Homo sapiens: one gene and its partners. The protein of the gene in region 1 interacts with the protein of each later gene in a biochemical or structural test. Each region holds a gene or a part of one and is shown in the gene's direction. Other genes may lie near its edges.

What was found.
Region 2: the proteins of PDK1 (region 1) and FGFR1 form a complex in vitro, tested with the Homo sapiens proteins (one study listed by BioGRID).
Region 3: of the proteins of PDK1 (region 1) and AKT2, one has a biochemical effect on the other in vitro, tested with the Homo sapiens proteins (one study listed by IntAct).

What each region holds. Positions count from the first base shown.
Region 1 is NC_000002.12:172,600,971-172,604,617, forward strand, and holds part of PDK1 ([Pyruvate dehydrogenase (acetyl-transferring)] kinase isozyme 1, mitochondrial isoform 2 precursor), read left to right. Parts: 3' UTR 1-3,647. UniProt on the Homo sapiens protein: Kinase that plays a key role in regulation of glucose and fatty acid metabolism and homeostasis via phosphorylation of the pyruvate dehydrogenase subunits PDHA1 and PDHA2.
Region 2 is NC_000008.11:38,420,103-38,423,749, reverse strand, and holds part of FGFR1 (fibroblast growth factor receptor 1 isoform 1 precursor), read left to right. Parts: intron 1-1,808; coding exon 1,809-1,953; intron 1,954-3,647. UniProt on the Homo sapiens protein: Tyrosine-protein kinase that acts as a cell-surface receptor for fibroblast growth factors and plays an essential role in the regulation of embryonic development, cell proliferation, differentiation and migration.
Region 3 is NC_000019.10:40,233,280-40,236,926, reverse strand, and holds part of AKT2 (RAC-beta serine/threonine-protein kinase), read left to right. Parts: intron 1-541; coding exon 542-670; intron 671-822; coding exon 823-1,037; intron 1,038-1,576; coding exon 1,577-1,664; intron 1,665-1,779; coding exon 1,780-1,882; intron 1,883-2,975; coding exon 2,976-3,055; 3' UTR 3,056-3,647. UniProt on the Homo sapiens protein: Serine/threonine kinase closely related to AKT1 and AKT3. All 3 enzymes, AKT1, AKT2 and AKT3, are collectively known as AKT kinase.

The sequences.
Region 1 (3,647 bases):
TTATTAAGGGCCACTGTTTTACTGGGGTTAACTGCATGAGGTCAAAAAGAGCTATATTTGAGCTGCTGTTTGTTAAAAGAAAAGTTTTCTGCCGGGGACTCGCTTTACCCTGTCTACCTAAATTCTTTCTGCCTTCTATAACAATTGTATGCTCAGTAAATACATAAGGAATAATGAACTTAATAACATTTTTTTCCATTCTCAAAATGATACTTAAATGACTCAGTACAACAAAGAAACTGAGTAGTAACCAGTGCAAAACTAGCAAAAGGATGAAATACACAAGAAAATGAGAGAATTTAAGAGGAGTAGCAAAACAGCACTGCTAAAGTTACGGGTTTATTTTAAAGTTTAAAATAGAAGTAAACAAGCAAACATACTGATAATGGTTAGGCTTTCTGTCCCCACCGCACAAATCTCATCTTGAATTATAATCTCAACATGTTAAGGGAGAGACCAGATGAAAGTAATTGGATCATGGGGTTGGTTTCTCCCATGCTGTTCTCGTGATAGTTCCCATGAGATCTGATGGTTTTATAAGTATTTGGTAGTTCCTCCTGCATTCATTCTTCCTGCTGCCCTGTGAAGAGGTGCCTTCCACCATGATTGTGAGTTTCTGGAGGCTTCTGCAGCCTTGCGGAACTGTGAGTCAATCCTTTTTATTATAAATTACCCCGTCTCAGGCAGTTCTTTATAGCAGTGTGGGGATGGACTAATACTCGCTGGGTTAGCTGGGGTAGGTAAAGCCACAGCTGTGGCAGCAACCAGCTAGTGGGTGTCCCTTGATGGAGGCTTTGCAGGCTGCAGCAGAAGGGACCCTTCAGATAAACCTCCAGTCAGGAAAGGAAAAGGCCCAAATAAACAGTATTTAGATTTTTTTTTAAAGGACATAACTACCAATAGAGATTTAAAATAATCATAAGAATACCATTAACTTTATGATAAAAATTTTGTAAGTGGAGAAGAAATGGATATATTTCTAGGAAAACAGTAGAAGATCCATCTAAGATTTTGACAATTTAAATCAACCACTAAGGAAGTGGAATCAGTAATCACAAGTCCACCTCGCCAAAAGACAATTTTTGAAAGATGAATGTTACCAAAACATCAAGAAACTGATAATTCCTGTCTTATAGAAACTTTGAAATGAGAGAAAGCTACCCAACCCATTTCAGAAAGTTAGTAAAATCTCAAAGCTACACTTGAGCAAAGACTGTGAAATATTAATAGACCAATCTTGTTTATGAACATAGATGGAAAAATTGCTGATGAAATATTGGCACATTGAATGTAGCAGTGCATAAAATATTGTATCATGAGCAAAAGGAGAATCTTTCCCAGGAACAGGAGGATGTTTTAATAAAAATATGTAATTTACCTCTCTACAGATTAAAGGAGAAAAACTATATGATCACATCAACAGAAACAGGAAATTCAGTTTCTTTGGGGGATAGTTGTAATTAAAAGTGCTTAACTCACTTATATAAGCCATTAGTGGATGTTACAATAAACCTCGTATAGTGTCAGATGTAAGACAGACATACTGGAATTGTCTATGAGGTTGGATCCATGGGCCTGCCATGGAAAATTTGTTGAGTAATACGTCCAAGGCGTCACCATTTGCCAGGCGTTGCAAGTATCACCATTTGCAAGGTGTTAACAAAAAGTTACCTGCCTATGGATTCTCCTTTCTAACTCTGACCTAATATTTTGGAGCATAGAGGAAAGAAACATCTTATGTTTCTGTGTTTGGGTAAACATTAGACTTATAAAAGGGCCTAGGGTTTTTTTGTTTGGTAAACCATTGCCTTTCCTGCTTTGGTGTGGCAAATCTTCCTTTGGAGAAAAAGGTCCCTTTAATCTTAAAACCAACTCTCAGTGACCAACAAAAGCAACAAATAGGAACAACCACCCATTAAGAACCATCAGGTGATGCCTCATTTGCTGTGGTGCACAGCTGAACTTGATTGTTACTCTTGGATCAGGGTTGGCTTGATAAGGACTCACTTAACCAATGGAAAGTAAGGTTAAATCTTTGTAAGCAATGCTCCTGATGCGAATCACCTGGAGATCTTGAGCAAATGCAGACTGGTTCAGCAGATCTGGAGTGGGGCCTGAGATTCTGCATTTCTAACAAGTTTCCTGGTGATATTAATGCTGCTGGTCTGTGAGCCATACTTTGAGTAGCAAAGGACTAAAGGTTGTGAGATAAACTGCTTTTAGCAGCCCAAAGGGCCAGCTGGAAAGACGAGACCAGTTACAGAGCAAATGGCAAGACAGATCTGGTAATCTGATTCTTAGAGTACTTAAAAAAGATAAGAAGGATCTATTCCTGATATACAGGGTACTTGGTGGATGTGTCCATGACCTCGAGATCGAAAACCCATTAGTTAATCTTTGTGACATCTGAATTTTAAGGATCTTACCCAGTGAACATATAACTAGTGGAAATCCTGATAATTGGCTAATGCAAGGAAGTGATACCCATGTGTAATGCTTATCTTTGTATCCATTTCATGGGGAAGGTCATGGAAGACGACAGCAAACTTGAGTGGTTAATGAGAGCTTCACTAATGTTGTCTGCTGCAGGCAATAAGTGAAGTCTCTGGCAGTGGGAAGCATGGACCCAAGACCGAAAGCTCTGGCACTTTATAGCAGTGGTGGGGGGTAGATAGGACTTAGTGTGGCCCCTTAAAGAGCAAGGTCCAAGTGATTTTCTCTGGTGAATGTCGATGTGGATCTAGTCTCCAGGGTTAGATCCAGGCAGGTAACATCAAAGTCAGTTGATAAGACCTCTTATGCCTGTGAATGGAAGGCCCTGATAAAACTTCATTATTAATGTTCTGCATTAATTTAGCGGATGACTATAGTCATTTCACATAATCTAATACATGAATGTCCTGTATGGGTGACTGCTGAGGGTTTAACAAAGGAGAGTCCATTTATATTTGGCTGGTAAGATCGATGCTTCTGTCACTACTGATGGGCAAGGATATTAACATCAATATCTAAAAAAATTCTGAGATTTGGATTGTGATGTGTTAAATTTCTAGACCAATTTGAGGAGAATTTAACAATAGCTTTTCAATTTATGAACATGGCGTATATCTTTTTTGGCGGGGGGTGAGGACAGAGTCTTGCTCTGAGATTACCCAGGCTGGAGTTTAGTAGCATGATCTTGGCTCACTGCAACCTCTGCCTCCTGAGTTGAAGCAATTCTCCTGCCTCAGCCTCCCCAGTAGCTGGGATTACAGGCGAGCGCCATCATGCCTGACTAATTTTCGTATTTTTAGCAGAGACAGGGTGTCGCCACCTCAAGGGATCCACCTGCCTTGGCCTCCCAAAGTGCTGGGATTTATAAGCGTGAGTCACCGTACCTGGCCAGACATAGCATATATCTTCCTTTACATAGATTGCCTTTGATTTCTTTCATTGTTACTTTGTAGTTTTCAGCTTACAGATTCCGCGCATATTTTGTTAGACTTAAATCTAAGTATTTGCTTTTTTTTTAACTTACAAATTTTTTTAAAAAAACGTTTTTCCTCTCCAATGTTCATTGCTAATACATTTCACGTTTGAATCTCCAGTTCAGAAAAATCATGGCCTCTGGAGTTTTACTGAGGACTAGAGATAGCTAAGTAACATAG
Region 2 (3,647 bases), on another chromosome or scaffold:
CCCTGCTCCAGTCCTGGAGGGAGTGGGTTAAACACAAATAGAACATTCCATTTGAAGCAGTGATTCTTTTTTTTTTTTTTTTTTTTTAATCAAATGCTTTGGACTTTTGAAGTCCACTTGTTCTGTACTTGTAAAAGGGAAAGAAGGCCGGGCGCAGTGGCTCACGCCTGTAATCCCAGCACTTTAGATCACTTGAGGTCAGGAGTTTGAGACCAGCCCGGCCAACATGGTGAAACCCCATCTCTACTAAAAATACAAAAATTAGCTGTGCATAGTGGTTGGCACCTGTAGTCCCAGCTACTCAGGAGGCTGAGGCAAGCTAACTGCTTGAACCCAGAAGGCAGAGGTTGCAGTGAGCTGAGATCACGCCACTGCACTCCAGCCTGGGTGACAGAGTGAGTGAGACTCTGCGTTAAAAAAAAAAAAAAAAAAAAAAACTAAAAGGGAAAGGTAATAAATCTCACTTAACATCTCCCTTCGCTCCCTGGGCCTGCCTGAAAGTTACACGGGAGCAACGTGCGTGGCCACATCTCAGCTTTGCCCAACTGACTGGTGTGTCGTTGGTTTGTTCCAGCATTCGGGGATTAATAGCTCGGATGCGGAGGTGCTGACCCTGTTCAATGTGACAGAGGCCCAGAGCGGGGAGTATGTGTGTAAGGTTTCCAATTATATTGGTGAAGCTAACCAGTCTGCGTGGCTCACTGTCACCAGACCTGTGGCAAAAGGTAATGGGGAGATGGATGGGACCCTGTGCTGGGGATTTGATGTAGGCCCCAAGCTGCTGGGGCAGGCGGGGAAGCCAGTACTGGACTGTCCTTGCCACCCTACTGTATTTCTAGTGCCCAGAGCCATGGAAAAATACCCGGCCTGGGAGGCTGGTTTGGTTTGGTATTGTGTTGGTGTCTGTGGGTTCCCTCTCTGCCTTCTGTGTGTTCCTTGGCTTTGTGTGGATCCATGTGAGGACTCACGGGGACACGGTTTTGCTGTGTTACAAATGGTACTTCAGACTGAAGTTGTGAGTGAGTGGTGATTAAGAGAAGGGGCCATAGGCCAGGCACAGTGGCTCACGCCTGTCATCCCAGCACTTTGGGAGGCTGAGGTGGGAGGATCGCTTGAAGCCAGGAGTTTGAGACCAGCCTGGGCAACATAGCAAGACCCCATCTCTACAAATTAAATAAATTAGCCAAGTATGGTGGCGTGTGCCTGTAGTCCCAGCTAGTCTGAAGGCTGAGGCAGGAGGATTGCCTGAGCTTAGGTCGAGGCTGCAGTGAGCTATGTTTATGCCACTGCACCCCAGCCTGGGTTGACAGAATGGTACCCCATCTCTTAAAAAAGAGAGAGAAGGGGTTAGGCATTCCCTTGCATACTCGCATCTGCTGGCTGTGTATGCACATGTGCGTGTGTGTATGCGTGTGCATGTGTGTGTCTGCAGCCCCCGCCATCCCTCCTGTGTTCACCTTCTGGCTATCTTTACCTGAAACCAAACAGCCCCTGCCCGCCGGCCCCATTTCTCCATGCCGCTCACCGCCCGCATGCTCGGATGGGCCAGTGGCTGCCAGCATCTGGTGAAGGGTCGTAACCAGCCATCGTCTTCTCAGGTCTGCCGGAGTTCTTCCCTCAGGGTCTCACCCTCTTCCTCTAACAGGTTTTGCTGCCTGGTGGTTTTCGTTTGTTCCTTGTTGCAAAGAAGATGTCAGGGAGCATTTCTTCCTCTAGTCCCCCTTCTTTCTGTCTCCTTCCCTTGCTCTGCGTCTCTTAGAGGTCTCATGTCCTGTGCTTGTCCATTTTGCTTCCGTTGTCTCTTCTAGACTGCTGGAGTTAATACCACCGACAAAGAGATGGAGGTGCTTCACTTAAGAAATGTCTCCTTTGAGGACGCAGGGGAGTATACGTGCTTGGCGGGTAACTCTATCGGACTCTCCCATCACTCTGCATGGTTGACCGTTCTGGAAGGTACACACTGTAACTTCTCCTCTCGATGTCCTGCCCTCGCCACGGGCACGGGGGGAGCATGCATTTCCAGGCTTGGGGAGACACAGAGGCAGGAGAGCTGGAAGAATGGGCTCCTGCCTGCCTGGTGCCACATCCTGCCCCAGCTTTGAGGGCTGAATCCTCTCAGCTCAGAGAAGAGCTTCCCTAGTTTTGCAGGCGCACGGAGGCCTCCCACCCGTACACCTGCCTCTGCTCTCCCCCTGGCCATTGCAATGCATGCCCGGGATCTGGGTTTACCCTGCAGCCCGACTCCTCCAGGGCAGGCTCCTTCCGTCCTTGGGTCCAGCAGCCTCCCCCCTCCGCTGGGTACTGAGCATCTGAAAAGTCTCAGATAGGGCCCTACACCTCTTCTCCCTTCTCAAGTGCTCAGCCCAGGGGTGGGGCTTGCTGCTTGCAAAGAGCAGCCCACCCTCCTGTACTGCCATCCTATTGCCTTTGAAGAAGGAGGTCAGCCTGGACAGGTGAACTGAGTTGCCTTCAGAAAGGCCTGTCTCAGGCAGCCGCAGCAGGCTTCACGATGTCCATGTATCCTGTTTGCCTGCTGCCGTCTCTCCTCTCCCAAGAGGGGAGGTCTGCGTGTTGAGCCAGGGAGGAAGGAGCCTGCAGCCTGCTCAGGGTGGTGGCTGGTGACTGCGGGGCCAGGGCTTGCTGCTGTCTCTCGGAATGTCCTGCATGTGGGTCTGGCTGTTCCTGCTGGCACTGCCCTCTTCTCTCTCCCCTCCTTTCCCACTCTGCCCTGCTTGCCCGTCAGGGTCTCCGGATGCCCCTGCTGGAGGCAGAGAAGCGTTCTGTTTTTATCATCGTCCCTGTCTTGGTCCTGTCCGTGCTCCCCATGTGCTCCCAATCAGTTGTCTTCGTTCCTCAACATCAGGGAAAGAAAAAACAGCAACACTTCTCCCTGTCATCAGCTCTGCTGTCTCCTTGTCAGGCCTTGGGACGTTCTCTGGGCTCAGTCTAGGGTCGTGCCTCATGCCTCATGCCTCTCTGGGAAGGTTCCCAGGGGCGCCGCCTCCATGGTTGGCTGGTGGGTTTTAAAGGGGAAGGTTGGGAGGAGGCCTGTGGAAGGAGGAGGGCCGTCCACACCCGTGGGGCAAAGCGTGTTCCATGAAACCAGTGCTGTGCGTGCTGGGATGAAAGCCTCCCAGCCTCTCGTGCTGAAGGGAAAGGTGGACCGAACTGGCTTAGCTGCTGTGGCAATGGGGTGGGGGGTGAGTCCTAATCAGAAGGTGGGAGAAGAGAATAACAAAATGGAACTCCGCCCCCTGCCGCCACATTTCCTTAAGTTTTAGGAGTTGGGGCCTATGAGTAGAATTTGAAAGAACTACCAAAAAAGCTTATTTTTGGAAATTAAGTCAGCTTTGCCTGTGGTTTGGCTAGGAATAAATATTTACCTGTGTGCCCCTACAGAGATGACACAGACCCAAAGTGGGACATTGAGCAAGGCACAGGCTGGTTCCCCTCCTGTCCTCTGTCCTCATTCTGTGAGTGCCACCATCACCAGGTACTGTGGCCTGCAGAAATAAACGAGGCACCAACCCTGCCCTCAGGGACCCCGTGTCTTCTTAGGGACAGAGGACTCAGAAACATCTGTGTCCCCGCATGTTAAGTGCATGCACACAGTGCTGAGGCTTTGCAGAGAAGGGCCATGGCTCCCT
Region 3 (3,647 bases), on another chromosome or scaffold:
CAAGTAGCTGGGACTATAGGTGTGTGCCACCATGCCTGGCTAATTTTTTTTTTCATATTAAGAAATATGGAGATGGGGTCTCGCTGTGTTGCCCAGGCTGGTCTCAAACTCATGGGTTCAAGCAATCCTGCCACCTAAGTCCCCCAAATTGCTGGGATTACAGGTGTGAGCCACTTTGCCTGGCTGCATATTTCATAATTAAAGGACAGAAAGTCTAGAAAAAAAGAATAGAAGAAAGCTAGTGCCCCCACGTTCGAAATAAGAACCACAGTTCACAATGGGGACGGTGGGTGGACAGGGCCTGGCTCTCGGCTCTCCCTGCCCAGCTGTTCCCAGGTACCATGGGGGTGGGCCAGAGGGTGAGGAGGGTTGGATCTGGCCTCTCTCTGAGCCTCAGAGGGTGAGGCTGTGTGTGCTGGGCCCAGCCTGGCATGGGAGGGTTGATGTCCAGGAGCCCCGGGCATCTTTCCCTGGAAGGAAAGGCTGGGGTGGCAGGAAGCCTTGGGAGCATGCACCTGAGATCCGTTGACTTTTCCAACAGCTGGAAAACCTCATGCTGGACAAAGATGGCCACATCAAGATCACTGACTTTGGCCTCTGCAAAGAGGGCATCAGTGACGGGGCCACCATGAAAACCTTCTGTGGGACCCCGGAGTACCTGGCGCCTGAGGTGTCTGGGGTTGGTGGGGGTAGGAACGTGTGAGGCCAAGGGTAGGGGGATCCCCCAGACCTGTGTGTTTCCAGCCCAGATGCCCTGAGGGCAGGACTGTGATGCCAGCCTCAGGGCCACGGGCCCAGCCCTCATTTCTCCTCCATCCTCAGGTGCTGGAGGACAATGACTATGGCCGGGCCGTGGACTGGTGGGGGCTGGGTGTGGTCATGTACGAGATGATGTGCGGCCGCCTGCCCTTCTACAACCAGGACCACGAGCGCCTCTTCGAGCTCATCCTCATGGAAGAGATCCGCTTCCCGCGCACGCTCAGCCCCGAGGCCAAGTCCCTGCTTGCTGGGCTGCTTAAGAAGGACCCCAAGCAGAGGTGAGGGCTGGCGTCGGCCCCACCCAGCCCAGCGCCAGCTGCTGCCACTGTCCCTGCGGCCTGGAGGGGGCAGCGTCCACAAGGGTGCTCGCTTGTAGGGTCGCAGTGTGTCGTCCCCACACAGCCCCTGAAAACGTCCACAGTGGCACTTAGGGAGTGCTTCCCCCAGGGCAGGCCCATCCTTGACACTGCCTTATTTTATGGGGACACTGAGGAACAGGGCATCCCCTGGGCCTGGCTGGGGCCACCAAACCATATGTGGCAGAGCCAGGATAGGAACGGAGCCTGCCCTACTAACTCCCTTTCTGGACTCAGGGTAAGGCCAGGCAGTGAGGACACGTGGGTCCGGGTTGCTGACTCCCTGGCTCTGACCCTGGGCACGTGAGCTCCCTCCCTGAGCCTCGGTTTCCTCCTCTGTGAAGTGGTTTGTGGTCAAGACAGAATCATTAAGGGCCATACAGGGCCTGCCTGCTCCGAAAGCCCGTCTGCCCGAACCCAGCTGCTCCGGGAGGCAGGTGCTGACGGCCGTCTCTGCACAGGCTTGGTGGGGGGCCCAGCGATGCCAAGGAGGTCATGGAGCACAGGTTCTTCCTCAGCATCAACTGGCAGGACGTGGTCCAGAAGAAGGTGAGCCCCACTGCTTGCCCCAGCAGGACCCTCAGGGACCTGGCCCACTCGTGGTGACCTTGGTTGAGGCCTCCTGGCCTCAGGGTCCCTGAGCCTGAGCTCCTCTCCTCCGTAGCTCCTGCCACCCTTCAAACCTCAGGTCACGTCCGAGGTCGACACAAGGTACTTCGATGATGAATTTACCGCCCAGTCCATCACAATCACACCCCCTGACCGCTGTGAGTGCCTGGGGCCCCCGCGCTGGTGTGCCTGCCCCAGGGGTGGAGGGATGGGATCTGCTCTTAACTCACTTCTCAAGGAGGGCCCTCGAAGGCCCCCGCTTCATGTCTGGGAGATTTCCCCAAGTCTGCTCTCAGGCCCTTTTGCTGTTGGTCCTCTTTGGACCTGGTGAGGCCACCAGGAGCCATTGACTGCAGCACGTTCTGGAGCTCAGTCGGGGGGCTCAGGGCAGGAGGCAGCCCGGTCCCTGAGCCTGGCTGGGTTCACTGCTTTACAGCTGTTTGGGTTCTTACTCTGAACTCAGCCCAGGGCTGGGCTATGCTGGGGACACAGCACTGATTGAGCCAGCCCTGGGCCCTGCCCTGGAAAGCTCCCAGCCCAGGTAGGGTGGGCGGCCTGGAGTGGTCAGGGCTAGGGCGTGGGAGGCCAGGGACTGGGGAATCCCAGAGGAAATATCCGACCTGGCCTGCAGTTAGGGAGGGCTTTCTAGAGGAGGAAGCAAACGTGTCAGCTGGCCGGAGGAATGACGTGTGGGATGCCAGCAATGGGAGAAGCATGGCATAGCTAAGGACCGGCAGCAGCCAGGGAGATGGTGGTGAGAAGAGAGGGCATGGGGCTGGAGTGCAAGGGTCTGGGGGCCACTGGGAGGGGTGGGGACTGCTTGCATGGCGGGAGCCAGCCATGGAAGGGTTTCATACAGAGAGGGACAGGGTTAAAGCAGGCCTTTAGAAAGCCCCCCTGGCTGCCCGTGGAGAATGGATGGGAGGGTGCGAGAGGCAGGCCAGGACAGGGCTCTGGGCTGGACTCTGGCATGGTGGTGTGTGGGGCAGAGAGAAGGTGGGAGGCTCAGAAGGCCCTGCCAGCTGTGGGGCGCATGGGCAAGGGCACAGGAAACTCCCAGAGGAGGCCGCCCGGGGCTCAGGTTTGGGGAGTGGGTCCGTGGCTGAGGGCCTCCATTGCGGAGGGATGGGCCTTTCCTGTCCTGTCCTGTGGGCAGCCCCCGCCAGCTGGGGCCGTTTCCCCAGGGAGTCTGGGCAGGTGTCCCAGGCCCTCTCCTGACTGGTCCTCCCCATCCACCTCTGCCGCCCACAGATGACAGCCTGGGCTTACTGGAGCTGGACCAGCGGACCCACTTCCCCCAGTTCTCCTACTCGGCCAGCATCCGCGAGTGAGCAGTCTGCCCACGCAGAGGACGCACGCTCGCTGCCATCACCGCTGGGTGGTTTTTTCCCCCTAACTTTTTACTTAGCCTTTTTGGTTTGTGTCCCCACCCCCACCTCCTCACCCCCTTTCCAGTTCTTCTTCAGGCCCCTCCCAGACGCACCCCAGCGGCCCCTGCAGCCCCTGCCTCCAGCCTCCAGCCTCACCTTTGTGCCCAGACTCGCATTTGGAAGACTCCACCTCCCGCCCAGGCCTGGGCTGTTGGGCGGTTGGAGATTCAGGTTTTAATCCACACAAGCCCCAGTGAGGGGTGAAGCATGGCGCCTGGGGCCTGCCTGAGTTTCTGGCCTGGGTGTCGTGCTGGTGTCTGCCTCCGCGCTGCTGCATCTGGACGAAGGCTGCCTTCTGGTGGGACGCGACACCCGGCAGACAGTGGTGCTGCCTTCCAGGCCCCGTGGCCTAGGCTCGGAGTGGCCAGGCACGGGGCGGTCCAATCCCCCACCCGCTGTCCCCCTATGGGGGCAGAAAAGCAATAATGTCCAGGGGCAGGCAGGGGCCCTTGGGAGCTGCAGGGCTGGGGGTTAGGGCTGCTCCCTGGTGAAT